7 separate regions of the Homo sapiens genome follow, and all the other regions are reported to be linked to region 6. Evidence: microRNA targets listed by miRTarBase, many of them from high-throughput screens and not tested one by one. Region 6 holds a microRNA gene; each other region holds the end of a gene's coding sequence.

The links. The annotated mature microRNA hsa-miR-6872-3p reads CCCAUGCCUCCUGCCGCGGUC and lies in region 6 at 1,113-1,133, shown strand. An mRNA with a match to its seed (bases 2 to 7 or 8) in the 3' UTR can be bound and repressed. Matches are read on the target gene's strand: a 7mer-m8 pairs with bases 2 to 8, a 7mer-A1 pairs with bases 2 to 7 and ends in A, and an 8mer does both.
Region 1: miRTarBase lists KLB as a target of hsa-miR-6872-3p. Seed matches in the 3' UTR shown: 7mer-m8 at 2,534-2,540.
Region 2: the mRNA of WDR59 is a reported target of hsa-miR-6872-3p. Seed matches in the 3' UTR shown: 7mer-A1 at 1,217-1,223 and 7mer-m8 at 1,514-1,520.
Region 3: the mRNA of CTNNBL1 is a reported target of hsa-miR-6872-3p. The part of its 3' UTR that is shown has no 7-base or 8-base seed match.
Region 4: miRTarBase lists TAB3 as a target of hsa-miR-6872-3p. Seed matches in the 3' UTR shown: 8mer at 1,158-1,165.
Region 5: miRTarBase lists ZDHHC14 as a target of hsa-miR-6872-3p. The part of its 3' UTR that is shown has no 7-base or 8-base seed match.
Region 7: the mRNA of PRKD2 is a reported target of hsa-miR-6872-3p. The part of its 3' UTR that is shown has no 7-base or 8-base seed match.

What each region holds. Positions count from the first base shown.
Region 1 is chr4:39,448,247-39,452,322 of GRCh38, reverse strand. It overlaps KLB (klotho beta), which reads right to left. Exons shown (of 5, transcript NM_175737.4): 5 at 790-4,022. The coding sequence ends at 3,637. Among named protein-coding and RNA genes, the nearest start is that of RPL9, 8.6 kb to the left of the region's middle.
Region 2 is chr16:74,870,507-74,874,582 of GRCh38, reverse strand. It overlaps WDR59 (WD repeat domain 59), which reads left to right. Exons shown (of 26, transcript NM_030581.4): 26 at 139-3,221. The coding sequence ends at 374. Among named protein-coding and RNA genes, the nearest start is that of FA2H, 98 kb to the right of the region's middle. RefSeq lists enhancers at 1-358, 2,564-3,112.
Region 3 is chr20:37,871,722-37,875,797 of GRCh38, reverse strand. CTNNBL1 (catenin beta like 1) reads right to left here. Exons shown (of 16, transcript NM_030877.5): 16 at 3,680-3,873. The coding sequence ends at 3,785. Among named protein-coding and RNA genes, the nearest start is that of VSTM2L, 29 kb to the left of the region's middle.
Region 4 is chrX:30,827,654-30,831,653 of GRCh38, forward strand. TAB3 (TGF-beta activated kinase 1 (MAP3K7) binding protein 3) reads right to left here. Exons shown (of 11, transcript NM_152787.5): 11 at 1-3,922. The coding sequence ends at 3,774. Among named protein-coding and RNA genes, the nearest start is that of TAB3-AS1, 5.0 kb to the right of the region's middle.
Region 5 is chr6:157,672,535-157,676,610 of GRCh38, reverse strand. It overlaps ZDHHC14 (zDHHC palmitoyltransferase 14), which reads right to left. Exons shown (of 9, transcript NM_024630.3): 9 at 1-3,887. The coding sequence ends at 3,489. Among named protein-coding and RNA genes, the nearest start is that of MIR3692, 150 kb to the right of the region's middle.
Region 6 is chr3:50,272,163-50,276,238 of GRCh38, forward strand. MIR6872 (microRNA 6872) reads left to right here and starts at 1,074; the gene lies at 1,074-1,135. SEMA3B (semaphorin 3B) reads left to right here. Exons shown (of 17, transcript NM_001290060.2): 7 at 1,136-1,281; 8 at 1,373-1,484; 9 at 1,597-1,666; 10 at 1,751-1,895; 11 at 2,201-2,420; 12 at 2,681-2,772; 13 at 2,850-2,891; 14 at 3,140-3,297; 15 at 3,398-3,453; 16 at 3,543-3,682. RefSeq lists enhancers at 1,013-1,212, 1,191-1,714.
Region 7 is chr19:46,671,097-46,675,172 of GRCh38, forward strand. PRKD2 (protein kinase D2) reads right to left here. Exons shown (of 18, transcript NM_016457.5): 17 at 3,937-4,022; 18 at 3,220-3,639. The coding sequence ends at 3,427. The region is part of intron 2 of DACT3-AS1 (DACT3 antisense RNA 1); the gene reads left to right. Among named protein-coding and RNA genes, the nearest start is that of DACT3, 12 kb to the left of the region's middle.

The DNA of each region.
Region 1 (4,076 bases), not on the chromosome of region 6:
GAAGAGAGAGATTTTGGGAAGGTATTGACAGGATTTCAAAACAGTATGAGGCTTGTGGGAGAAATTTCCAAGTGGCAATATTCTAGTGGGGTGGAGATGCTCATGAGAGGATCAGCTTATGGGGAGTAGCTGCTGTGGGAGTAAATGAGATTTCTTTGAGCATGAAATGGACTGGCATGCTGGGTCTGACCTTCATAAGGTAACTTAAGAGACTGTAGCTAAACAGTGATTTTTTTTTTTTAATAACTTGGGTATAACAAATGAGCCTAGTTCTCCAGGGAAAACTTAATTATTGTCTTCTGTGTCTACTATGGATAAGCACTTGTGCACTATTTTTGCAATTTTTAGATGTAGGTGTCCACATATTTTTGAGACGGGGTCTCTGTCACCCAGGTTGGAGTGCAGTGGCGTGATCTTGGTTCACTGCAACCTCTGTCTCCCAGGCTCAAGCAGTCCTCCCACCTCAGCCTTCTGTGTAGCTGGGACCACAAATACGTGCCACCATGCCTGGCTAGTTTTTTGTAGAGAGGGTTTTGCCACGTTGCCCAAGCTGGTCTCAAACTCCTGGAATCAAGCAATCCGCCCACCTTGGCCTCCCGAAGTGCTGGGGTTACAGGTGTGAGCCACCACACCTGAGCCACATTTTTTGAGAAAATATACCCAGAAGTAACATACCAAGTTGGTGCACAACTAGGCAGAAAGGGATTCAGGGGAGGCAGTCTTGGGGCAGAGCCCATTTACAATGCCAAACCCATTCACATTCAACAGTTCTTAAAATTGACCAGGTTGTTAGTTGAATACAAGTGGTCAGCATGAACCAGTTTATTTGGAATAAATTACATTGAAAATTAAACATGTAGTCACACTGTACTGGCCTCATTTTCCAGAGGCTCTTTAAATATAGTTGTGATTCTCCAGGTTGTTACATTGAATATACGATAAACACGTTAGATTTTTCACAACACATCTCAGAAAAGCTTAAACTCCAAAGATCTTACCTGTTTGCTCCTTTCAAGAGTTATCAGTTTCTGGTTGACCTTTGATGGTTTTTAAGGAGTTTATGATAAACCTGAATATTTAGTATGATAGAGCATGAGCCAGATTAAATGCTTAACCTAATTTGCTGTACATATTTGCCAGTGGTTAAAAAATTTAAGGGTTTTTGGATTCTTGTGCGATGATGGCTTAAAAACTAGTAAAATAATGCCCAAGTGGCAGAGAAGGAGGACTCTCAGTACTGGGTTAGGAATTTTATTACTTAGGGGAGTTTATGGTAAACCAGCAAGTTAGAAAAGGGGGGCATGCTTTAAGCATAAGCTCTTAATGTGAAAGAGACAGTGAAGGTTAATTTGTGAACTGTGAGTACGAGATACTTTAAACAAAGTGAGAAAGAGAAAGCAAAACCTGAAAGATAAATTCCAGGTTTTTGTTATTCCTGTGGCTAACCTTTTTTTTTTTTTTCCCAAGCCCTTGATGTTAAAGAGAGGTTAATGAGTTGCCCAGTTGACATTAAAGAATTTTCCCTGGAGTTCTTGGGTCAGGGTGAATCAATGTGGCACAAAGGGGAAAAAACCCAGCCAAGTGATTGTTTTAAGTGACTTACTGTTTCTACATAGTTAGAGTAATAAAAACAGAATTGACTAGTTGTATGCGTGACCTTAGGTACATAGTTCTCAGAGGGAGATGTTAATACTAAAAAAATTCCTTGAAAATCATACCTCAAAACTGCCAACTTTGGGGTAGTGGGTGCAGCTGGGGCAAGGAGACTAGAGAAGAGTAAAGCAGAATTTTACTGTTCCCATTTGCCAGGCCAAATAGCAAATTGATTTCTCATCATATTTGCATTTACTCAAATTGACTAATTGTATTTTTACAGTATTTTGGAAACTTGTTCATTAGCAGTTAGATACTGAATTTAGCTTCAGACATAGGTGGACCTAGAATATAATCAAAACTGCCTTAATTTACTAAGGCTTTGTAACAGAAGAACGTCTCTTGTGACTGTTAAGGTCTAAATTGCTGGAGTGAGCAGACAAGGACAAATTAATGTATGCAGTGGGTGTTAAATGTTGACCTAAAGAAAGAATAGGTATAAATAGGTGCATATTTAAGTTTTCTTCCTCAGATGTTTAAAATACACTGAACAAGTCTCAAGAACAGAGTTCATTTCCCAAAGTGTCAAATTATCCAAGTCAGATCTAGTAATTAACCCTAGCCCAAAAGGGTGCTATATAAAACAATTTAAACTCATTCAGTATTCTGAATTGTTGCTTTACTTACAGTATAGCAACTTCTATTCACAGAGTTGAGTCTAGCTTTCCTTCATCCTGTGATCTTTCCATGAGATGAGGTTTTGGAAATTACTTTTATTTTTATTTTTATTATTTTTTTTTATTTTGAGAGACAGTCTTGCCCTGTCCCCCAGGCTGGAGTGCAATGGCACGATCTTGGCTCATTGCAACCTCTGCCTCTCGGGTTCAAGCGATTCTCCTGCCTCGGCCTCCTGAGTAGCTGGGATTACAGGTGCCCACCACCATGCCCGGCTAACTTTTGTATTTTTAGTAGAGATGGGGTTTTGCCATGTTGGCCAGGCTAGTCTCGAACTCCTAACCTCAGGTGATCCACCTGCCTTGGCCTCCCAAAGTGCTGGGATTACAGGCGGTGCCACCGTGCCTGGCCGGAAATTACATTATTTTAAAAAATCAGATCTAGTAAAAGATCACAAATTAGATATTCTATAGGTGATTTTTTGTTGTTAGAAAAATGAAGGGCTTGATCCTCTTTAAGAGTCTGTGTTGTAACTGGCTTAGACAAGCACTACTTACCCTATTGTGTTTTCTTTCCATTTTAGAACCACCCTGACCTAAAGGAGAAGGCACCTTATTAGAAGTGACAGAATATATATTATCTATCACTGACTACCCAGTTTAAAGAAGGGTGTTAAATCTCTGCTGTAGAGTCTAACAAAACAAAGTTTTGCTTTTGCTTTTTTTTTTTTTTTTGGACACAGTCTTGCTGTTGTCGCCTAGGCTGGAGTGCAGTGGCGCAATTTTGGCCTACTGTAACCTGTTTCCTGGGTTCAAACTTCTGCCTCAGCCTCCCAAGTAGCTGGGATTACAGGTGCCACTGTCACCACGCCTGGCTAATTTTTTGTATTTTTAGTAGAGACATGGTTTCACCATGTTGGCCAGGCTGGTCTCGAACTCCTCACCTCAGGTGATCTCCCCGCCTCGGCCTCCCAAAGTGCTGAGATTACAGGTGTGAGCCACAGCGTCCAGCCCCAGAGTTTTACTTCTTAAAAATAATTTATTGTACCACAAGTAGCTATTGGTAGAGATGAAAGCTAAAGCAGAATGATGGAATACAGTTGATGAAACTTTAAGAAGCAATGTAGCATGTAATCCTCATAGCTTACTGTCAGGATGAAGCCTTTATGTTTACATCCAAGAACTGAGTTCACTGATGTCAACACCTAAGGGAATGTTCTTTGAACCACACAGCAGAGACAATTGTCATCACCTTGGTTACAGCTGTATCTCAGATTGTCTTTCTATAATACAGGTATATCTCCTGTAAGTTACCAGCATATGGAACTGGGATGAATTTTTAAACTGTCTATCATGCAGACAGATCAGTTTAGCTAACAACTCTCTTGCCTTTCTTTAATGGTATGTGTTGTAAGTTTTTTGCTTTCCAAAACTTTCTTCTCTTCTGCCTTTGAAAAATGGCAATTGATAAGAGTAGAACCAGGGTGGAGAAGAAGCAACAACCCAGGAATATCAGTGGTTTCTTCTGCACAAGGAATAAGCAGACAGTGCACTCTGTATTTTCTTGGGTCTGACTGCATCTAGAACTACTGTTCTCAAAAGGGAAGCCCCTGCTGCTGATCACTTTGTTGTAAAATTGTATTGAGGATTTAGCTTTAAAATCAGATGTGAAGAATCCAAATCTGGGTTTAGATTTCTCTTCAGCCAGTTTGAATGCATAATAGCCTTTGATTCTGACTTTATCAATCAGGTATGCTGAAAAAGATAAGAAATTAACATTAATCACAAATGGACTATGAAGTATCTTTG
Region 2 (4,076 bases), not on the chromosome of region 6:
AAAATGAAAACCACTGGTCTAAGAGAATCTGCTAGAGTCTTGAGAGGAAGACTTCCTTCTTCCTGGCAAGCCCCAGTTTCCTTTTTCAGAACTAAACTCATGCTGCCTCTTGTTTTGCCCGTCCCTGCCCATTTCCAGAGTTCGGCGTGTACTGCAGCCACTGCCGGAGTGAGGTCCGTGGCACGCAGTGTGCCATCTGCAAAGGCTTCACGTTCCAGTGTGCCATCTGTCACGTGGCTGTGCGGGGATCGTCCAATTTCTGCCTGACCTGTGGGCACGGTGGCCACACCAGCCACATGATGGAGTGGTTTCGGACCCAGGAGGTGTGTCCCACCGGGTGTGGGTGCCACTGCCTGCTTGAAAGCACTTTCTGAACCTACAGAAGTTGGGTATTGTCTGAAATCCCAGAGGACCCATAAGTGCCGGTGACAAGCTGTCTGTCAGGGGAGAGGCTCCAGAACCTGGGTTCGTCCCCAGTGAGACCGGAGGATGATCCCCCAAGGACTGCGCAGCATCAGCTCTTGGTGGGCCTCTGCCTTCTCTTCTGTTTGGCCACCTGGTGTGGATGTCACTGTGTGAAGATAAGGACAGAAGTGCAGAGCTGCGCTTTGTGTGTTGTCTATGTCGGCTGAGCTACCAAGGTGGAAGTTTTCATGGAGAAAAGCACCTGGCTCCAGGGCCAGTGTTACAGTGTTACCCTGTAAGGTGTTAGCCTTAAACCACCGAGCAGCGTTCTCTTGATGCCAGTGCAGAGACCAGAGTCAGATGCCCGAGGACAGTGGGTAGGAATTTCATCAACAAATGGACCTATGGCATCATGGCTTTAGAAGCTGGTACATTTACTGAGCTGATGGACAGTGGCCTTCTAAAATATGACACTTAAATTGTAAATATGCACTGTACTTAAGGATTCTTAAGATGTATTTTTTTGTTATTTCTCCTCCAGCTGCTATCCCTTGGCTAATAAAATTCTAGTAATTTGAAAAAAAAAAAAAAGAGAGAAAGTTAAACAACATTATGGTGAATCATTTTTTACCCTAATTCTAATTGAAGGTAGCTATTTTGAATAGGACCAAAGTCAGTGCTCCGATTTTTAAAGGAAATGCTGATTTACTTTTGTCATCTGACAAGAGAAAATGGAATTTGACATTTAAGGTTCTTCCTAGCCCCAAGAGTCTTATTTCTTCTAGCAAAAGGAGGACAAGATTGCCGTGCAGCATGGATAGAAAAGTCTCCCTGGCCAGGCCCCATGGCTCATGCCTGTAATCCCACACTTTAGAAGGCAAAAGTGAGGGGATCACCTGAGCTCAGGAGTTCGAGACCAGCCTGGGCAACATAAGGAGATCCCATCTCTGCAAAAAATTTAAAAAATAGGCCGGGCACGGTGGCTCATGCCTGTAATCCCAGCACTTTGGGAGGCTGAGGTGGGAGGATTACCTGAGGTCAGGAGTTCGAGACTAGCCTGGCCAACATGGTGAAACCCCATCTCTACTAAAAATAGAAAAATTAGCCGGGCATGGTGGCGGGCGCCTGTAATCCCAGGTACTGGGGAGGCTGAGACAGGAGAATCGCTTGAACTTGGGAAGCAGAGGTTGCAGCGAGCTGAGATTATGCCATTGCACTCCAGCCTGGGTGACAAGAGTGAGACTCTGTCTCAAAAAAAGAAAAAAAAAATTAAAAAAATAGCCGGGTGTGGTGGCACATGCCTGTGGTCCCAGCTACTTGAGGGGCCGAGGTGGGAGGATCACTTGAGTCCAGGAGGTTGAGGCTGCAGTGAGCCTTGATTGCACCGCTGCACTCCAGCCTGGGCAACAGAGTGAGACCCTGTCAATAAACCAAAGTCTTCCTTGCCTCTGTTCAGATGGGCTGGGTTCCAGTGAGTGCCCTCACTCTTCCTTTAGGCTCCCTCGCAAACTGCCTGTGTTTGCCTGTGTTCTGAGTAGTTATAACATCTGTGTCCACCAATTCTTCAGAATGATTTTCTTTTTTAAAGTTAAATTTTTTTTTTTTTTTTTTAGAGAGAGAGACAGGGTCTCACTCTGTCACCCAGACTGGAGAGTGGTGATGCAATCATAGCTCACTGTAGCCTCTATCACCTGAGCTCAAGTGATCCTCCCACCTCAGCCTCCCGAGTAGCTGGGACTACAGGTGTGCACCACCATGCCTGGCTAATTTCAGAATGATTTTCAACTTCACATTTTGTATGTGCCAGTGAAAAGAAATCTTTTTTATTATTTCTACTGAAATATCTATTTCTGTTTCTTAGAATTTTACAGTTCCAAGTAGATTAGCTTAGGGACTAGGACATGTCTCATAATGGGAGAGCATTGCATATTCATGTGTTTCAAACTCCAGGTCAGGACCCATTAGTGGATTGTGACATTGATCTAGTGCGGAAAACCAGCATTTAAAAAAATGAAATGGTGTAAGAGAAAAATGATCACAATGTACCATACATAGCTAAGGAAAATGTTTTGTGTAACTTGTTTACGTGTGTGCAGCACATGTGTGCACAGGTGTATACCGGATCATAGCGTAAATTCATTTCTTACTGAAAGTTGTAGTCAAAACATTTTCACAACACTGTTTTGGATGAAGCTTATACCTCGTCCCCTGTGTTACTGGGCACAAAACTTCAGGATGTAAGAAAGAACTGAGATCCTGTGCAGTGGAACCAGAGGTTTAGTGCTGGGCTCTGGTCTGAGGTAAGGTGCCAGTGTCTCAGTAGCGTGAGCAGGGCGGGGGAGCCGCTGGGAGGATGACAGGAGAAGGCCCAGCCGGGAATTTGCATACACAAATTCTGTTGTAATGGTGATCACAGAATAGGTTGGCTGATTTACACAGAGAGAAAGGATCTGTTGTGTTCCTCAGTGAAATCACACCATTTGCAGAGAGCAATCTTTTCCTGTTCCCCACTGCTCAAGTTAGTGTAAAAACCTGTCCCTATCTGTCCCCATCAAGAATGAGATGTTTTTCTTGTTTTATTGTTGGAGGAACATTGACTTTCAAAATTGAAAAACCTTAATGGTGTGAAGAAATTTCGAGTTTAAAATATTACATAATGTCATCCTTCAATACGGAAATTCCTTTTGAATTTCCAAGTTACCAGAACAAAAGTCTAATATTTTAAAATATTCATGTTTGGAAACAGGTTGGTTGTCTGGTTGCGGGCCATGGCCGATATTCTCTCAGCCGCAGAATAGATGATTACAAGCACCTGAGTCTTTTGTTTGTTTATTTGTTTTTAAGAGCAATACAAGGCCAAGTGGGGTGGCTCACGCCTGTAATGCCAGCACTTTGGGAGGCCGAGGTGGGTGGATCACCTGAGGTCAGGAGTTCAAGACCAGCCTGGCCAACATGGCGAAACCCTGTCTTTACGAAAAATGCAAAAATTTTCCGGGTGTGGTGGCGGTTGCCTGTAATCCCAGCTACTCAGGAGGCTGAGGCAGGAGAATCGCTTGAACCCGGGAGGCGGAGGTTGCAGTGAGCCGAGATTGTGCCACTGCACTGCAGCCTGGGTGACAAAGCAAAACTCCGTCTCAAAAAAAAAAAATGAATAAAGGCAATACAAGCTATGTTTGAAAGTACCTTTGCAAGAAAACAGGCCCAGCAGTCGTATTTGTGCACCAGAAACAAAAGGTTGCTCAGGCAGGATACTGGAAAGGATGGGGGAAGGGGCGAGCCTCAGGGCAACCACCAGGTTGACTATTTGTCCCTGTCCCTAACCCCCCCAAGACACAAATGGTATAATGCTTTCTTTGGTAATGTCACATAGATAGAATTGATGTTGCTTTAACAATTTTTTTTTTTTGAGACAAAGTCTTGCTCTGTCACCCAGGCTGGAGTGCAGTGGTGCGATCTCAGCTCACTGCAGTCTCTGTCTCCGAGGTTCAAGCGATTCTTCTGCCTCAGCCTCTTGAGTAGCTGGGATTACAGGCGTGTGCCACCATGCCCAGCTGTTTTTTGTATTTTCAATAGAGACGGGGTTTCACCATGTTGGCCAGGCCAGTCTCAAACTGCTGACCTCAAGTGATCTGCCCGCCTTGGCCTCCCAAAGTGCTAGGATTACAGACGTG
Region 3 (4,076 bases), not on the chromosome of region 6:
GTGGGTCTGCTTTTACCTCTACTGTTGGGTAAGGAAATCTAATCAAGAAGCCTTGCCTTTAGGAAAGCGAGTCTCGTCTCCCTGTTGACACTAAATTGACGCCCTCAGTAATGGCAGAAGATGCCACCTGTGCACTGGTGCTACCGTGGGGGTGACTGAAGGATGCCTTCCAGCGGCCCTGACAATGCGTCTCCCTAGATAAGGAAGGCACGCAGCCTGCATGCAAATCTCTGTGAATTAGAGACGGCCCATCTTGCTGCTGCTGATTCCAGGCGTGCGACCACCACAAACGGAGCAGCAAGCCGCCATGGAAAATGAGGGTGGAATCCTATTTCCCCTGTGAAGAAACCCTGGCGAATATTGCTAAAAGGCAATCCGATTGCCATGTTTGGGTTGGAAAAGGAATACTGCCTCTCTGGATGCTATGGTCTGGTCCCACTCAGCTATGGACATGAGGATGAACATGAAGAAGCTTTGTTTGAAGGGGCAAATTTAGACTGAGCCCTTTCAGTGGGCAAAGAAGTCAGGTTCGGAGCCACAGGCCAAGGGCAGCCTTTCCTGGAAGCCCAAGAAGCTCCCCCAGAGGAGAGATGCTGCTTTGTGAGTCAGAGGGTTTTTTAGGCAGACAGCGAGCTGCCTGAAAGCTGGGACCACGCCCCAAGAGCCCAGGGTGAGCAATGAGGAGCTCTACCTCGCCCTGAAAAGCTTTGCGGGGCCTTGGGTCGTTGAAATCAGGGAGTGGTGGTGGCTGCTTTCTCCTTACGCTGTCTCCTTGGTCCCTCGGGCCCTGGAACCGTACTCCCCTGCTGCACCCGAAGGGACTACACCTCACATTGCCCCTAACCCTCCGCACACAAAACTAATGGAAAAGGGGACCGCTTCCTCAGTTGTCAAGAGAAGAGTTCCAACTTGCTTTTAGCAAAGGGACAGAATTCAGGAGGCTGCCACATGCGAAGCAGGGCAAGGTGCGGCAACCATGGAGTGCCTGAGCCGCCCCGGCCTTTCCTTCCTATGCTGGCCTCTGGGAGCTGGTGGGTAGCCTGGGCTTCCAAACACGGCTGGCAAAATGCTGGACAGAACTCTGGAGGAGAATCAGATGGCAGCAGCTGCCTCCAGGGGCAGGAAGTCCTAGGCGATGGGAGAGGAGTGGGTGGACTCTTCACTGCCTCGCTTTTTGTTAAATTTTGAACTCCTATACCGTTTGCAAGCATTACCTGGTTAAAATTAAAATTGAAAAAGAAAATCAAGGTGAAGGACTGATGATGTCTAAAGTACCGATCTTAGCTCTAGAAGTCTGCTTCTCTAAGTTACACCTGGACATGCTCTATTTTTTGTGAATTCATTAAACCACACAACAGATGAAAGGATCGGAGCACGGCGTCAGCCGGTACGGTGTGACCCTTCCAGGTAGAGGAGCTCAGCGGGAGAGGGTGTGAACTGCGCCGTCGGACAGGCCTGGCTAGAATGTGCGTTCTGATGCTTGTTGGCCACAGGGCCTTGTGCAGCTACTTACCCTCTCTGAGCCCTCAGCCTCAGCTTGCATAAATCGGGGATAACAATGCCACTGGGCATTCGATATGTGCCAGCTACTACAGTTACAGAAAAGTCAAGGAAGAATTAGACCCAAAGTGACGGCACCGCCATCTGATCCTGTGACAGGCCCTGTCGCGCTCTCCTGCCCCTCTCTGTGGGGACGCTTACAGTTATGCATTGTTCTCCCGCCAGGCTGCAAGTGAGCACCAGCAGGCAGGGCCTGCCTTACTCTCTGTTCCGTCACCAGCCCAAGGCTGGACACAGAGCAGGTGCCATCTTCTTCAGGGACCTCTCGGTGGCTTCCTGGGATGGCAAACAGGTTTCACCCAGCATGTCAACTCTGGCCTGATGGCAGTGGCCGCTTGGGGCCCTGTCCCTCAGGGTCTAGGGAGCAGCAAGAGGGGCAGGGACACAGTGCGAGGCGTGTAGCATCCCCAGCAGCCTGTCTGTGACCCTGGGCTGCACAATGCATTGGAATGAAATGCTGCTTTCTTCATCTGGCCACTCTTCTGCCTCCTCACTCATGGGGACTCTGTTCTTTGAGGATTGATTAAAAACATGCTAAAGCACTGCTGACTTCTGAGGGGGAAACCAACCTTCTCATCACCTATGTCGAATGAGTAGAATCACAGTTCTTTTTTATTTTTTGAGACAGGGTCTTGCTCTGTTGCCCAGGCTGTAGTACAGAGGAATGATCATAGCTCACTGCAGCCTTGACCTCCTGGGCTCAAGCAATCCTCCTACCTCAGCCTCCCATGTAGACGAGATCATAGGTATGTGCCACCATGCCTGGCTAATTTTTCTATTTTTTGTAGAGATGGGGTTTCACCATGTTGCCCAGGCTGGTCTCGAACTCCTGAGCTCAAAGATCCTCCCCGCCTTGGCCTCCCAAAGTGCTGGGATTACAGGCGAGAGCCATCACATCTGGCCTGAAATCACAATTCTGAAGTCACAAATGTGTGTGGGAAGAACCAAAGGAAGCAGCAGCTACCAAGCCACGACTGTGCCTTCATCACTGCGCTGCAGGCTTGCTGAGCATGCCATCCTCAGCAGCAAATGGGTATTATTGGCCCCACTGTGCAGTTTAAGAAGTGAGATTCAGAAAGGTGAAAGTCACTTATCCAAATGTACAGCTAAATCAGCCAGATGTGGTGGCACCTCCCTCTCAGCTACCCAGGAGGCTGAGGTGGGAGGATCGCCTGAGCCCAGGAAGTCAAGGCTGCGGTGAGCTGTGGTTGCACCACTGCACTCCAGCCTGGGCCACAAAGTAAGACCCTGTGTCTTAAAAAGAAAAACAAAACAAAACCGGCCAGGTGCAGTGGCCCACGCCTGTAATCCCAGTACTTTGGGAGGCCGAGGCAGGTGGATCATGAGGTCAGGAGATCGAGACCATCCTGGCTAACACGGTGAAATCTCGTCTCTACTAAAAATACAAAAAAATTAGCCGGGCATGGTGGCGGGCGCCTGTAGTCCTAGCTACTCGGGAGGCTGAGGCGGAAGAATGGCGTGAACCTAGGACATGGAGCTTGCAGTGAGTCGAGATTGCGCCACTGCACTCCAGCCTGGGCGACAGAGGGAGACTCCGTCTCAAAAAAAAAAAACAAAACCCAAACCAAAACAAAATGTACAGCTGGTAATGATGCAGTGGGGAGATGGACCCAAACCTGTCCACTCTAAAGCAGTGGCTCTCACCCTGATGCACGGAACCACTGGGAGCTTTAAACAGCCCAAATGCCAGGGCCTCACTGAGAGATTGGATGCTATTTTTGCGGTGGGGCCCACGTTGGGATCTGGTAATTCTCCATGCAGCCCCCACCCGAGTGGTCTGACACGCGGCAGGGCTCTGCATGCTCTGAGGGCTGTGCTGTGTGGCTGGCCTCCCCAGGGAACTGGAGCATGAGGCCAGGGCCTTGGGTCCCACATCTAGACTCTAGGCGGGTCCCCAGTCCAGCCTCACAGCAGCACCACCTGCGTAGCCACAGTGGCGAAGTTGTCACTGCTACACCCTCTGAGCCTCAGCTTTCTTGCAGGCGGAGTGAGGCTGCCCATGTGCCTTCCCTGGGGGAGTCCTGAAGTAGCTGCTGTGGGGAGGGGGCAGGGAGGGTCAGCAGGCGAAGCTTAACTACAAAGAAAACTGGCCCGGGGATACCAAAACTAGCTTTAATTTGTCCAAAAGCCACACAGAGTTGTGTAGAAACTGATCCTGGGAGGGAAGCTGAGAGAGTCCATGATGCGCAGGGCCAAGGTGCCTCTAGAAGTTCTCCAGCAAGCCCAGGATGCGCTTTTGCTCGTTCTCCCGGAACTCCGGGCTCCGGCCGTCCCCGATGTTCTCTGCATACTCTAGGGGGACAAAGATAGAGTCAGGAGTGGATCCCAGGCATGGCATCCACCGTGGCTGCGTCGCTTCATACCTTTCCCAGAACCCCAGCTCCCACAGAGGTGCAAGTCGCCCTAATGCCCCCACTGTAGCCAAATTCCTTGGGGTCTTGCCTTTGAGGCCTCAGTGGAAAGGTCCCAACTTACCTTTCCATGCTTGGATTCCC
Region 4 (4,000 bases), not on the chromosome of region 6:
AATTCTTTTACAGTAGGGAAAGAAACATGGACATTGGGTATCATAAATAATTCAGAATTGTTCAGTCTCAAAGTAACTTTTCATGGCTTTAGAATTAAAATTGAGTCATCATTCTATTAATCTCTGAATGCCCAAGCCATGCAGAATCTACTTGTATTAAATATTTGGGGATGCAAATAATACAGGAAAAAAAGTCTGGTGAATGTGAAAACGTCATCAGAATTAACCTTTACAATAGGCAAATACTGTTAATTCTTTCGAAAAGATACAGTAGTGGTGCAACACAGACAGTGCCCAATTTATTCTGATTTTTAAAAGTAACATTTCAGTTGTCATTTTTCTTTCTCTACAGATAGATATACAGACACACACGGTAACATGGACTCATTCAAGGTCTAACAATGGTACAATATTAAAATAATTCAATTTTTAACTATAAAGGGACATCTTCACATTCCAGGATACATCATTGATATTTTTAGAGGACAATTCTTCTATGCCTTATATTCTTTTTGTTTATACTGTCAGAAATACATTACAATTACCTCTTAAAAGACTATATAAAATTGAATTGCCACAGAAGGTTGGATATGAACCCTAGACAACTGTGACAAAGCAATGACAAAATTTAAGGAAACATTGATTTATTTGCATAATTAAAAAGTACTAAAATTGAGACCAGCTCCTTAAAAATTAAACTGCTTATCACACTTCCCATTTCTTCCAGGGAAATAAACAAATTAGCAACACTTTCCCCACCATCATTATTAATTTGCTCTAAAACTACATTTTTACAATGCATTTCTTTGTTTCTTTAAAGCCCCCTGCCTCTACTCTCTTCCAAACAAAGTCAATATCAATTCAAAACATTTTACAATGCTTAAAAAGTTTCTGGCTCCTCTATTACCATTTTAAACTTTTAAAAACTACTCCAAAATTTAAGGGGCAATGTACTTTAACAAAATGGCAAACGTGCTTTCTAAAATCCCAGTTTACAAAATAGCGAAATAATGTAAAATGTATAGTCAGGCCTATATGTTACCAGATACATCAAACTAGTCATTTTAAAGAAACCTCTTACAAGAAACAAGAAGTGCACCAGCTGATCCAGCTGGCACCTCAGCAGCCAGGCGTCATCCGATTTATATCCTACCACTTCCATGCCAATTGTCTGTACATACCAACTGACTACAAGATCCTTTTGAAAAGGCATCTTGAAAGTTGGGTGAATTCTTGTTCAAACTGGTCATAGGCAAAAAGCAGTCTACATATGGGACACAGTTAAACATACCAGATTTATCAGTGTCAAGTCATTTTGCCTATTTTAAAACTGAATACAGCCTATGTTGGCATATGAAACTTGTGCACAATTAAAAATTAACATGTACAAAACTTCCTTAAAATCAATCTGATACCGCATACCCCACCCTTTACACCTATCCAATAGACTGTTTTCTCTCTTTTCCTGGCAGGTGAAAACAATGATTGACTAGATAATATCACCAAAGGATTGAAACCATGCATCTACTGTATAACAGCTTATTAACCTTGATGTATTTTCATGCAATAGTTTTAAAGTCATCTACATGGTTTTATAAAGCATCAGACTGTTTTCAGACATGCTACTTTCATTCTCAACTGACAACTGCCAAGTTAATTGCCTCCACTTCAGCATATCACTATGAATACTGGTAAACCTTTTAGCTAGGACACCAAGCAGTATATATATATATATTTCCCCTAAATTGTAACTTAAAACCAAGTGGGGTTGACCATCACTAAAGAGATATGAAACCATACAAAGGCAAAGGCATATTACAGAACAGTAGGACGGCTAGACTGTTATTGGAGACAGAGACCAGTGTTACAAAAACCTTTGAAGAACGTTGTTTTGGGGACCATGCTTTTAAGCCCATCTGCTTTCTCACCGTTATTTTCACAGTTTTGCCACAGTTGTTGTGTGAGAGATGTTTTTATCAGTGTTAATTACCATGCTTCCTTTGGGAGACTAGTGGATATATTTTGGGGAGTTTTTCACATATGAAAAAATGTTTTCAAAGCTGTAGGCAGAGTGTGAAATGATTCTGATGGAAAACTATGATGAGTTATTACGCCTTTGGTTTCATTATGCTATTAAGAGCAGCTTGTTTTTCCAGGTCTGCCAGAGATTACTGCTAAATTAGAAGTGGGGGGGCGGTGTAGGGGGGTTGGGGGAGAAACCTGATGGGAGCGTCTATGGATATTCCTAAGACGATATCCTCAGGTAAAATCCTTTAGGATGGGAGAACCTACTAACTTTATTGCTGTTTATACTCACCAAAATGAGGGGAAGATTCCAAAACTCCAATTCTGAGCTAAGAAGGAACTCCAACAATGGCAGAGACCTTAATGAAATGTGCTATTAAGTTTCCAGCGATGCACCCTAGTGAGTCACATGACTTTATATCTCTTATCCGCACCCTGAAGTTCTATTTCATAAATAAGGAGTGCTTTAAAATGATCTGAACTGCCTGTAGAGACTCAATTGACCTCTAGATACAGTTATGTTAAATTTTAAAAGTTGTTTCAAAGTCCTCTATATTCACCTTTCTCTTAATAATTTTTGACAATCCCTCCTTTCCTAAATAATGCAGTGTGCAACTTTGTCGTTGGCCAACTGTAATTCCCCTCACACTGGTTTGTTAACATATGCAAGTAAGTTTTTATTGAACAGTTAATATTGATTTCAGCTAAATTAGGATTATGGCACAAAGTTTTATCTGTGCTGTAAACATCATGAATTTATCACAAAATTGGAAGGAAAAAAAAAAGGCCCTATGGACTGCAAAAGTTTAAGAACCACAGCTGAGCTCAAGATTTCCAAATGGATTTTGGAATGGACTTGCATTTGGCATACATTCACTGTGCTACTGGCAAAGCGCAGTTTTACGAGAATATCATTTATAAAATCATACTTTGTAAGGACTTGTTATTTTGAAAACCAATGGCCTTAATAAAAACATGCAGTAACTTAAAAAAATGCATCTCTTATGTGGCATAAGTAGGTCTTAGTTACCAGTGTTGATAGAGCTCGATGAATCACACTGTACAAGCCAAAGGCATCTTACCACCTCTGATTGTACTTTTAAACAAAGGCATGATATGCCTAGTTCCTGACTGCTACAAATCACATTTTAAAACATTTTGTTTGTGTGCATGTATGTGTGTTGGAAATTACCCCTGAAAAAAGCAGCAATTACAAATACCCTTAATTAATTTGCCCCCCCCCCCCAAATATTCTAGGTGCTTTTTCCTGTTGTCCTCTTTAGTAGGAAGCAATGGGAAGAAGCACGGGGAGCCTTGGTTTTCCAGAGAGCGGTGACCAGGTAAGTCTGCTCTGGGAATTCACAGTTTGCATAAACTGTAGCATTTCATACTATGATTCAAAGTACTACTTTAAAAAATAAGGGCCACTCAGCAGTAACTTTAACAATTGGGATTCCACCACAGAAGAGCTCTTGACTTCTGTGTGTACATTCTTTCACAGAGTGAATCCTTTCCCAGTTTCAAGTATCCCTTTCTATCTCTCACTCTGTAGTGAGTTAAGAAAGGAGAAAAAAAAGACCTCCCCATTTTTCCTTTCGTGAGCACAACGACGACCACAAAGCCATTCCTCCTCCCCGCTGTGCAATCGAAAATGAAAAGGCTGGGTGGATGAATAGAGTCCCGAGGTTTCCTTTTCTTCTGGTAGTGCTCAAAGTTTCACTTTCAACCTGGCGCAGACTTTTCTGAATTCAGGTGTACCGTGGCATCTCGCACTGCTCACAGCGATTTAGTGCTGGGTGGTTAAGAAAGGTGCAGCTATCACAATTCCATGGAGCCCCTTCGTAGTCTTCATCTCGAGGTTGTGTCCGAGGACTTTGTGTGGAGCCAGTTCGATGCTCTGAGGGAGGTTAGGATTAAGGGGGAGGGGGAAGGTAAATAGATTAACCTTTTTCCAAGTATAATCCAAACTGAAAAG
Region 5 (4,076 bases), not on the chromosome of region 6:
TTTTTCTTGCTGTTGAGTCAGACAAGAAGGCCTAGGCCCAGGAGGTGAAGAGCTTAGGGGTTTTCAAAGCCACAGAAGGCCTGGCCCATCAGGTCTCCGCAGGAACATGGCTCATAAAATGGGTTTGCTCCTCACTTGGAACCACAGCTGGCAATCCTAGACAGAGCCGGTGAAGGCCGCAGTAAGCTGGGGGGTGGCGTGGAACTCTGCAAAGACTCCTCCCTTGTGCCATTCTGGGCCAGAACAGAGATTTCGCATTTTGCTGGCTTAGGGTGGGGACATGGCATTGTCCTCACAGGCTGAAATCATCACATTTGAAAGCTGGAACGAGCATCTTTTGGTTGGGCATAACGCAACTGCTGGGCCAATTTCTGCAGAACGGAGTGACAGGTCACTGTGCCCTCCTGGATGCAGTCTGTCTGCCACCTTCCTGCAGCATCCCCCTGCTTCCTGGGGCCCTCCCGGATGCAGGCTTTGTGCCGCCTTCCTGCAGCATCCCCACTTCCTGGGGCCCTCCTGGATGCAGGCTGTCTGCCACCTTCCTGCAGCATCCGCCTGCTTCCTGGGGACCAGGGCACTCACGCTCAGTTCAGCCTTCAAGTGCCGGGAAGCCTGTGGTTCCCTGGAGCACTCCTGGGAGAACGAACGCAGATGAATTTTTAAACAGCAGAATGAGTGTGTGTTTGTGTGTGTTTGATAATGGTCCAAGCTTTAATAGCATGGTAAAATATTTATTTTACTTTTTATAGCTAGCATGTAATCAATCTCTAACACACTGAAAGAAGTTAGAAACACCAACGTCTACTCAGCCACAGCTAGAAGGAACCATTCAACATTTATAAACATAAGTATTTATATTTATGTACATGTCACATATATGTTCGTGGGAAATGCAGAGCCATCACCTCGCCAGGTGAGCTGCCCCTCCGACCATCCCTCCTGACAAACAGAAGTGGGCGCCCCAGGGGGCATCATCGCTCATTCCTCTGATGCTGGGTTTCTTTTTCAAGCCACAGAGGACAGGGCTGTGGGCTTCTCTCTGGTTTTGGTTTTTAAGACATTAATTATCTAGCAAATTGGCCCATTCAAGTTAATCTCTCTCTTGACCCTGAATAGCCTTGATTCACTTCACCAAAATTCCCAGTCCCCTATTGGATAAATGATGCCAAGTGTGTGCCAGGGACAGGGTTGGAGGTGGGGAAATTGATAATAAATATTAAGTAAATATCCATTATGTGAAGACAAGTGAGTCGTGATCCTGGCTTCTGGGAATTTTTCACAGTGAGGTGGGAAGAAGGGCTGGTCACAGGAGAGTGGCAACCACTGAGTTAGGAAATGTTAGAAGCGGGAGGCCTCTGAAGACCATGATCTTGCTTTCCAGGGGAATGAGCTGAGAATGGACTGGGCCACACGTGGGACCGGAGTGAGGGCTAAGCCGGATTCGCGGTCACCCATGGAGCACCGTTCTCATCAGGGCCAACTCCTTCCTGGGGCCTCTGGGGAGCAGGTGGAAGAAAGCAAGGAGCAGAGACGGTTTGGGAAGTTGTGGAAGCTCCTTTGTGGGGCTGTCACTTTGGGCTCACAGGTAGCGTGGACAAGGAGAATCCCTGTGAGTTGGTGCCTGTGAGCGTGTGCGGTTGTGTAAGGAGGGCACTGCCCCATGAATTACACATTGCAGGTGGGTACAAGTAGTTAGGTGGTTCAGAAAATCAAAAATGGCTACATAGAATGGACCTATTCCATTTTCTATACGTGCATGCAGCATGACAATAAAGATGGCTCGAAGACATCACAGTGCAAGAACTCTGCAGGCCCTTTCAGCATGAATTATTTTGTGACCTGTGAATTGCCTTCATTCCAAATAAAACTTGTGTGCTTTTCTTTTTCCTATCTTCTTTTCTTTTATATAAAATGGCAACTCTTTCTCAGGAGTAATAGCCTTTTTCCATAAATGCAAATCACTTGGGTTACTTGTATCATTGGTCAATGTGTCTTGTCTTTCATATGGTTATAAGGAGCAAGGCCATGGCTTTGAACTTGAGTAGCTTTAGCTGTTAGATTTATGGTCTGGAAAGAAGCCAGGAGAGGAGTTGCTGTGTCCCCTGTGGCTGCCCCCATAGTGACACACTCCCTAAGTCCAGAGCCAGTTCGTTCCCTTCTAGGTGACCAATGAAAGTGAACAAAGTGGTCATTTTCTTAATTTCATTCTGATCAGTGTCTAGGAAGGATGATGACCTACATGATCTCAGCTTAGACTGTAAGCCGATTTCTCCTCCTCATTTTCTGATACCTTTACTAGGACCTCAAGTTGCACTTCTGGGATTGAGTGACACGTTAACACAGAAGGAAGCCCAGAAGACGCCCGACAGAACCTTCTCCCTGAGCGTCCCCTCCCCTCTCCCTACTTCCGATCAACTGTTGCACGGCAAACTGCAAACGTAGAGCAAATTCCACTAAGATGGTGTCAAAAAGAGATAATTAAAGAAAATAAATGATGGAAAACTTGCCTCTTATCTAAGAAATTATTCTATAAATATCTCCCAGTTCAAAGATTTGACTTTTGGTTGTCTGGGGACCATTCCTCGCTAGGGACATTTCAAGAAAAACTCTCCCCATCTGGATGACTTTGTTTTCATTTATGCTATTAAGGATAACCGTACGCAGATCCAAAATAACAGAGGACGTCATTTTATTGGCTGTCCACGGGAAGTTTCATCACACACGGAGGTGAAGACTGTGGGGGTTGTGGCACACAATATCTCAACACGAGACCTCATCGAGCGGCCAAACAGAAGGTGAAGTGACACCCGACACGACGGAACCCCAGCCGCCCTCTGCAGCCCCGGTGCCACCTCTCCACAGACGCCTCAGCCCAGTAAGCTGAGTGATGACACTGTCCATTAGTCTCAGTTCGTTGCACTGTCTTCCAACAAAACAGCACTTGAAAATTCACAAAATTAAAAAAAGAAAAAGAAAGCAGCACTTCCTTGGAAATAGCAACACCACTGTAACACAGACGGCAGCGTGGCATGCAGATCCACACCTGGTCGGTTTTTTCCCTTTAGGATTTTTTTTTTTTTTAATTAACAAATGGAATGGCAGGTCTGTTTCAAATATTAGTAGCATAACACATAAGTGCAATTGCAGTCTGGCCACAAGCGTCAGAAGCCTTCCGTGTGTCTGTCACAAGGGCGGGCAGACACACTCCGATTCCACCCCTGGAGGGTCACCAAAAGAAAGCAGCCACTTCTCTATTTCCATTGTTGTCAAAGCACTCAGGTTGGGGAAGAAAATTCAAATGAAACCAAGCTCTCAGCATCCGGGGCCAGCCACCCTGTGCCATCCTAAGTGGTCTCTGTACCCCAGACCTGGGGCTGTCATCTCCACCGTGGCATTGGCTGGGAAAGTCGCTGTGGGACACACCCCTCCGCTCACTCCTGCTGCCCATGGAGGAGCCTCTGGTGTCCCCCGGCCTGGGGCCATGTGGGTCACACGGAGCTGAGCTTCACCAGGCCGCGCACAGAGTCCTCATGCAGGGAGTCCTGGCTGGCCAGGCCCAGCACGTGCATGGTGCGGCTGTGCGCCAGGGGGCTGCCCGCCGCCAGTAGCCTGGGGGGCGAGGGCGCCTCATCGGGCGTCAGGAACTGGTGGCCCATGTGCTCATCTTTCCGGGGCATCACGTCCGCGAGCGTGGCCTCGGCGAGGTTGGGCATGGAGGCGGGCGGTGTGGGCGGGCCCAGTGTGAGGCTGGCGCAGGGCGTGCCCAGGCCAGGCTTCCCGGGCAGGTGCAGCTCGTCGCTGGTGAGGCTGGGCTCGCTCTGCAGCAGGGGCGTGGCTGCAGCCTGCAAAACGAATTTGGTGCTCTGAATGCACTGGTCTTGGTCGCACTGGAGAGCGGGAGGCGCCAGCAAAGAGAAGGTGGAGAGGAGGGGGCAGAGGTGGGGAGGGACAGGGATGGGGACAGGGCACGGGCGGGGAGGGTGGGGTGCGAGAAGAGAGAAACCGTTAGTGACACCTCAGTCAGCCAGGCAGGGAGCGCCTACAGTGGTCCAGGTGCATTGGGAGAGACACCCAGC
Region 6 (4,076 bases):
TCAGGAGGCTGAGATGGAAGGATCACTTGAGCCCAGGAGTTGGAGGCTGCAGTGAGCCATGATGCTGCCACTGCAGGACAGAGCAGACCCTGTCTCTAAATCAAATAAAAATTAAATAAGGGCTATGGGCTGGTGGGCACAGTGGCTCACACCTGTAATCTCAGCACTTTGGGAGGCGGAGGCAGGCAAATCGCTTGAGGCCAGGAGTTTGAGACTAGCCTGGCCAACATGGTGAAACCCTGTCTCTACTAAAAAATACAAAAATTGGCCGGGTGCAGTGGTGTGCACCTGTAATCCCAGCACTTTGGGAGGCTGAGGCGGGCGGATCACCTGAGTTCAGGCATTTGAGACCAGCCTGGCCAACATGGTGTAACCCCGTCTCTACTAAATATACAAAAATTAGTCCGGCATGATGGTGTGCATCTGTAATCCCAGCTACTCAGGAGGCTGAGGCAGGAGAATCGCTTGAACCTAGGAGGCGGAGGTTGCAGTGAATGGAGACTGTGCCACTGCATTCCAGCCTGGGCAATAGAGCGAGACTTCGTCTCAAAAAAAAAAAAAAAAGCCAGGTGTGGTGGTAGGCTCTGACTGTAATCTCAGCTACTTGGGAGGCTGAGGTTGCAGTGAGCCGAGATCGAGCACTCCAGCCTGGGCGACAGAGCGAGACTGTCTCAAAAAATAAATAAATAAACAAATAATAATAATAATAATAATAATAAAGAGCAATGGGACCCAGCAGAAGGATTTGAAGCAGGAGTGGGGAGCATCTGGTTATGCTAGAGAGGAAGATTCATGAGTGAAGGTGAAACCAGATTACCTCATCTCCCTCCTACCCCAGCCTAAGGTGCTGGGCGACGTGTGGGGCGAGATCGGAGGCTAGCCGGGCTTCACGCCTGCGCCCCCAGGTAGCCACGGTCTCTGCTGCCCCCTCGCGGCTGCTTCTTGCCTCGCAGGCCCTGATCCTTTGGATTCGGTCCGCGCAGAGCGCCAACTGGACATGGTGCTAGAGGTTGGGTGGTCAGACACTGTGATCCCGGGTGCTGTGCCCGCACTACGGGAAGGGGAAGCAGCGCGTGGGTCTCGCATCAGGAGGCAAGGCCAGGACCCGCTGACCCATGCCTCCTGCCGCGGTCAGAGCCCAAGTTTGTCAAGGTATTTTGGATCCCGGAGAGCGAGAACCCAGACGACGACAAAATCTACTTCTTCTTTCGTGAGACGGCGGTAGAGGCGGCGCCGGCACTGGGACGCCTGTCCGTGTCCCGCGTTGGCCAGATCTGCCGGGTGAGGAGTCCCTGGGCCACACCCGGCGACCCTGCCCCTACCCCTTTGCCTGCCCTGGTCTCGCCCTCATCCCCTTTGATCGTCCCGGCAGAACGACGTGGGCGGCCAGCGCAGCCTGGTCAACAAGTGGACGACGTTCCTGAAGGCGCGGCTGGTGTGCTCGGTGCCCGGCGTCGAGGGCGACACCCACTTCGATCAGCTCCGTGAGTGCGGGAGTGGGTATGGGGTTGGGGAGGGGGGCAGCGGCGCAGACTCCGGGAGCCCCCGCCGCAGCGGGGCTGTGCGCCCTACCCCAGCTAGGCCCCTTCCCCGCAGAGGATGTGTTTCTGTTGTCCTCGCGGGACCACCGGACCCCGCTGCTCTATGCCGTCTTCTCCACGTCCAGGTGAGGGGCAGGAGGTAGGGAGCGCCCGGGGCGGGCCGCTGGGCTCCACCCGGCCCCTCACCTCGCCCTGGTCTTCGCCTCCAGCAGCATCTTCCAGGGCTCTGCGGTGTGCGTGTACAGCATGAACGACGTGCGCCGGGCCTTCTTGGGACCCTTTGCACACAAGGAGGGGCCCATGCACCAGTGGGTGTCATACCAGGGTCGCGTCCCCTACCCGCGGCCAGGCATGGTTCGTAGCCCAGGGACTTCTGCTACAACCCACTTCAAAGCCTCAAGGGTTTGAGAACTTGGCCTGGGGTCTTCTTGGTGAATGTGGTTTCTTCCTTTAGTTATGGGTGGGAAAACGTTTCCATCATAAGACAAGGCTTGTTTCCCGCCTCTGACTTCCTAGGGCAAGGCTGATCTCCTCTCTAATTCTCAGGGCAGGGTTCTGTCCCCATCCCCCTCCATGTTCCCAGAGGCTGGGCATGGAGGGCTGCCTATCAAGCCCCCATATCTATATCCCTGCTGTGCCTCCCTTTCCCCCACCCCCAGTGCCCCAGCAAGACCTTTGGCACCTTCAGTTCCACCAAGGACTTCCCAGACGATGTCATCCAGTTTGCGCGGAACCACCCCCTCATGTACAACTCTGTCCTGCCCACTGGGGGGCGCCCTCTTTTCCTACAAGTTGGAGCCAATTACACCTTCACTCAAATTGCCGCGGACCGGGTTGCAGCCGCTGACGGACACTATGACGTCCTCTTCATTGGCACAGGTCAGGGTCCCTCCACAGCGACCCCCAGGCTCCCAGCCAGGCCCTGTGGGCTGCTGATGGAAGCTCTCCCTGTTCAGTCCCATCTCCACATCCTTTCCTGGGCTGTGTCTCCACCCTGTGGATGCTGCCCAACCCACACTCTTCCAGTCCACACTCTTCACAACCCAAACATGCTGAGGGTAGACGCCTCAAAGGCGAGGAGACACTAGCCCCAGCTGTCCGGGAGCACCAATGGTCATTACCCCTTCTCATCCCTGCAGACGTTGGCACGGTGCTGAAGGTGATCTCGGTCCCCAAGGGCAGTAGGCCCAGCGCAGAGGGGCTGCTCCTGGAGGAGCTGCACGTGTTTGAGGTGAGGCCTCACCCCCAGTCGCCCGGGACCCCCCCACCCCACTAAGCCCTGACCCCGTCGCCCCTCCTCCCTCTCAGGACTCGGCCGCTGTCACCAGCATGCAAATTTCTTCCAAGAGGGTGAGTGACCAGGATGGGGGTCGGGGTGGGATGGACTGAGCTTGTGCCTGGCGCGTCCCAAGCCTCTGGCCCCTTTTGGTAGTTTGCAGTCCCGGGTTTGAGTACAGGCTCTGGCTTTGTTAGACTGTGTGACCTGAGGCGTAAGACCTCAGTGTTCCCATCTGTCGAGTGGAAGAAGGGATCCCTGACCGATGGGAGGCAGGCGTGGGGTCGCCCTCGGTCAGCCCAGAGCCCCTCGTGCCCCCTAGCACCAGCTGTACGTAGCCTCGCGGAGCGCGGTGGCCCAGATCGCGTTGCACCGCTGCGCTGCCCACGGCCGCGTCTGCACCGAATGCTGTCTGGCGCGTGACCCCTACTGCGCCTGGGACGGGGTCGCGTGCACGCGCTTCCAGCCCAGTGCCAAGAGGTGGGCGGGGTCGGGGTTGGGCCGCCGGGAGGGAGGCGAAGGGTCTTTCACTGCCCGGGGCTGAAAGAAGGGCTCACAGAAGATCGGATGTTCCCCACAGGCGGTTCCGGCGGCAAGACGTAAGGAATGGCGACCCCAGCACGTTGTGCTCCGGAGGTGAGTGCCCCAGCTGCCCCTACCCTCAGCCCCAGAAGACGCCCCACCTGCCCTGCCTTGCCTAAATCTGACTTTCTTCTCGCCCCAAGACTCGTCTCGTCCCGCGCTGCTGGAACACAAGGTGTTCGGCGTGGAGGGCAGCAGCGCCTTTCTGGAGTGTGAGCCCCGCTCGCTGCAGGCGCGCGTGGAGTGGACTTTCCAGCGCGCAGGGGTGACAGCCCACACCCAGGTGAGCCTTACTCCGCCCTCCCCGCCAGGCTCCTGTCCCACCCCCTGCATCCAGGAGAGGCCCCGCCCTACCCAACGAAGCCCCGTCCAACCAGACCCACTCCCCGCCCTGTCCAGTTTGGTCCCTCACCTGCACTCCACAAGCTGCTGAGGCCCCATTGCGTCCAACGGGGCTCCCGACCCGCCTCCCCTGAATCAAGGAGAAGACCCGCCCTCGACCCTCCCATTAAGGTCCCTGACCACCCCCCACCAAGTTCATGTAAACCCCGCCTCTTTCGGATTCTCCCTTGAAGACCACCAGCTCCCAAACACTCAGCCTTAAAATGTGCGCCTGCGGGCACCCCTTTCCCGCTCCACCTCGGCTCCCAATGACTCTTTGCTTCTTCCGTCGCGTG
Region 7 (4,076 bases), not on the chromosome of region 6:
TGAATCTTAGACTCAAATTCCTTTTGCATTTCAAAGCTAAATAGTGTCAAGTCCAATGTCCCTTTTCTTTACAGTATATACAAGTGTCTCTATCAACATTAGGTTTTGAGGTTGAGTGCAGTGGCCCACACCTGTAATCCCAGCACTTTTGAGAGGTGGAGGATCGTTCAACCCCAGGAGTTCAAGACCAGCCTCGGCAACATAGTGAGACCCCATCTCTATAACAAATAAAAAACATGCCCGGGCACGGTGGTTCATGCCTGTAATCCCAGCACTTTGGGAGGCCGAGGTGGGCAGATCACTTGAGGTCAGGAGTTCGAGACCAGCCTGGCCAACATGGCAAAACCCCTTCTCTACTAAAAATACAAAAATTAGCTGGGCGTGGTGGCATGTGCCTGTAGTCTTAGCTACTTGGGAGGCTGAGGTGGGAAGATCACTTGAGCCCAGGAGGTTGAGGCTGCAGTGAGCTGTGATCATGCCACTGCACTTTGGCCTGGGCAACAGAGCAAGATTCCATCTCAAAAAATAATAAAATAATAAAAAAATTAAAAACTACATAAAAAACAAAAAATTAGCGAGGTGTGGTGGCTCATGCCTGTAGTCCCAGCTACTCAAGAGGCTGAGGGGGAGGATGGCTTGAACCCTGTAGTTTGAGGCTGCAGTGAGCTACGATCATACCACTGCACAGAAGCCTGGGTGATAGAGCAAGACCCTGTCTCTAACAAACAAAATTAGGTTTTGTGATTCCAGTGGTCCTGATAGGATAAACTTTTTGTCTCTAATGATTTAAGTTATAGGGCCCTAAGTTTTCATTGTATGGATTTGATTTTTTTTTTTTTTTTTGAGACAGAGTTTCGCTCTTGTTGCCCAGGCTGGAGTGCAGTGGCACGATCTCAGCTCACCGCAACCTCCGCCTCCCAGATTCAAGCGATTCTCCTGCCTCAACCTCCCGAGTAGCTGGGATTACAGGCATGTGCCACCATGCCCGGCTAATTTTGTATTTTTAGTAGAGACGGGGTTTCTCCATGTTGATCAGGCTGGTCTCAAACTCCTGACCTCAGATGATCCACCCACCTCAGCACTCAAAGTGCTGAGATTACAGGCGTGAGCCACTGCGCCCGGCCTTGATTTTATCTTTCATGGCATCCTCATGATATACACTATCTCCTGGAATTCTATAATTGAGGAATGTTTTTGAATCACGTCTCTCATTTCTGGTCTCTGGATATTAACTAGTGGCCAAGACAGAAGCAGATCAGGGGTGATAGTCTTTTCCATACATTTTCTAGCCTGGGTCTGTCACGGGAGATGGATTCATCTCTATGTTGCCTACACTTCTGGACCTTAGACTAAACAGAGGGATAGGCACTGGGGATGGAGTCTAAGAGCCTTTCCCCAATAGTCTTAGCAACTATGCCTCAGAGGTATACTGCTCCTTTGGATACCTTCATTTACTGAGGCTCGTTTAGCATTTTCAAATCAAAGAGCTGCATTTTGGCCAGGCGCAGTGGCTCATGCATGTAATCCCAGCACTTTGGGAGGCCTAGGCAGGCAGATCGCTTGAGCCCAGGAGTTTGAGACCAGCCTGGGCAACATGGTAAAACCTCTGCAAAAAATCCAAAAAATTAGCTGGGCATGGTGGCATGTGCCTGTAGTTCTAGCTACTCAGGAGGCTGAGGTGGGAGGATCACTTGAGCCCAGAAGGTCAAGGCTGCAGTGAGCTGTGTTCATGCCACTGCACTCCAGCCTGGGAAACAGAGACCCTGCCTCAGGAAAAAAAAAAAAAGCTGCAGCTCTGGAACCATCAGATGGACAAGGTGATACAAATCAAATTGGAAAATCCCAGAGTAAGCTCCCAGTATTAGCCTAAATTGGCTACTAAATTCTTTCCTGTTTTCCTGGGTTTTTTAAGGCTGTGTTGCCCAAACTGGACTCGAACTCCTGGACTCCAGCGATCCTCCCACCTCAGCCGCTTAAGTAGCTGGGAATACAGTCACCCGCCACCATGCCCAGCTTTCAGATAGGTCTTTGCAGCACGTAAGTCAGAGCGTTCTGAAAGTCTGAAGAAAACTTGTTCAGGTCCATGCTCGGATCGTTCACCTTCAGCTGTGGAAGGTGGAGGACCATGTGTTAGGGTGTTACTGGAGAACTGGGGAGGTGGAGGGCTGGAGTCAAAGGTAGAGAGAGGTGGATACGTGTTCCCTCCAGTTCATTCCCTCTGCCTTCAGTCTTTCAAGGCCAAGATGAAGCCTAAGAGGTCACCTCTGATTCCCCACTCTCTCTGACCCCTGAGCTCATTCTAGGCTGCCCAAGCCTCCCAAACTCCCCCAGTCCAGCCCTTCCCGTTCTGGGTCATCACTGTCCAGGGGCAGGTATGTCTCTCTACTGGCAGGGCAGTCCTTGGCTGTCTCAGTCACCACTGTGTCCCCAGCATCACCCAGCTCAGTGACACAAAGGAATGAGTGAATATATACTTCTCTATTTCATAGATAGAGAAGTCATCACATCAACATAAAATAAAATACTGAATGTTACGTATCAGTTTTCTAGTATGGATCAGACTTGGGCTAACTGCATTTTATTATTTGACTTTTGAGACAGGGTCTCACTCTCTTGCCCAGGCTAGAGTGCAGTGGTGTGTGATCTTGGCTCACTGCAATCTCTGCTTCCTGGGCTCAAGCGATCCTCTAGCCTCAACCTCCAAGTAGCTGGGACCACAGGTGCAAGCCACCACACTTGGCTAATTTTTGAACTTTTTGTAGAAAGGGAGTTTCACCACGTTGGCCAGGCTGCTCTCAAACTCCTGAGATCTAAGGGATCTGCCTGCCTCGGCCTCCCAAATTGCTGGGATTATAGGCATGAGCCACCACACCCAGCCTGAATTAATAGTTGTGATTAGTAGTAACACCACCACCAAATAAAAAATCAGTCATCACAAACCATGAGATTACTTTTTCTCCAAGTTCTCTACCCTCCAGTCACATTCCTTCCATCTCTCCCCAGTTTCCAACTCCTCCTCCATTACTCCTCCCTCTCCCTTCTCATCTTCTCTCCTGGCACTCTTCCTGTATATTTTCTACCCCAGCTCGTCCTCCTTCCAAGACTCCTCTCCCATCAGTCCTCTCTCCCCACCCCTTCCATCCTTCCTCTTTTCAGGCAGTCCTCCTTCCAGATGAACTCCATGTTGGTACAACAGAGTAATGATTCGAGAGTGCCGTGTGCTGAGATCAAGGCCATGGGGCCAGAGATGAGTCCGTTTTAATTGCTGGGGAAACAGGGAGGGGCCTTGGAAATAGCTCCCCCCACCCCACTCCCCACGTGTCCCATCCAGTTTGGGCAGGAAGCCACTTTCCCTAGAACAGTTCATTGCTGGGATCCTGTGAAGAACCGCTGTGGAGGGCAGCAGCTGGACGAGGGCACAGGACCTCAGAGAACACTGATGCGCTCCGCCAGCCCCTGCATGTCGTGGTCCTGTGGTGGACAGGCCCCACCGAGATCCCTGTCCGTGGGCAGCCCAGACCCAGGCAGCGGATGCTCTGCTGCAAACTGCTCCCAGCGCGCGTCGTCACTCTCATGCGTGATGTATCGCTCTCCCATCTTCCCCTCCAGCTCTCGGAGGTCCAGCCACGTCTGGTACTCCTGGGCCCGAGAGAACTGGGGTTAGCTTGGGGTCTGCATTGGAGCAGTGCCTGGATATCCTCTGGTTTGCCACTGAGAGCTGGGTACCAATGAAGGTGAAGCCATACCCTCTGCAACCCACCCAGCCAGTAGACATTTAGCTCCACCCCCTCTTCCTGCACCCAGCCAATGGGAGGCCTAGCCACATTCCAGACCCAAGGAAACCTACATCCTTCACAACCTGCCTAGCCAATAAGCGATCTACTCCCACCCCTTCCTCCAATCCAGCCAATGGGCCAGCCCTGCCCCCTGCATCACCTGTAACCAGGGGTGGCTGAGAGATTTGTCCACGCTGTAGCGTTTGCGCATCTTCACCTGCAGCAGGTTGTTGATGAGGTCAATGGCTGCACAGGAAAGAGAAACAGGTCAAGCCCTACAGGTCAAGGGTCACTCCTCCT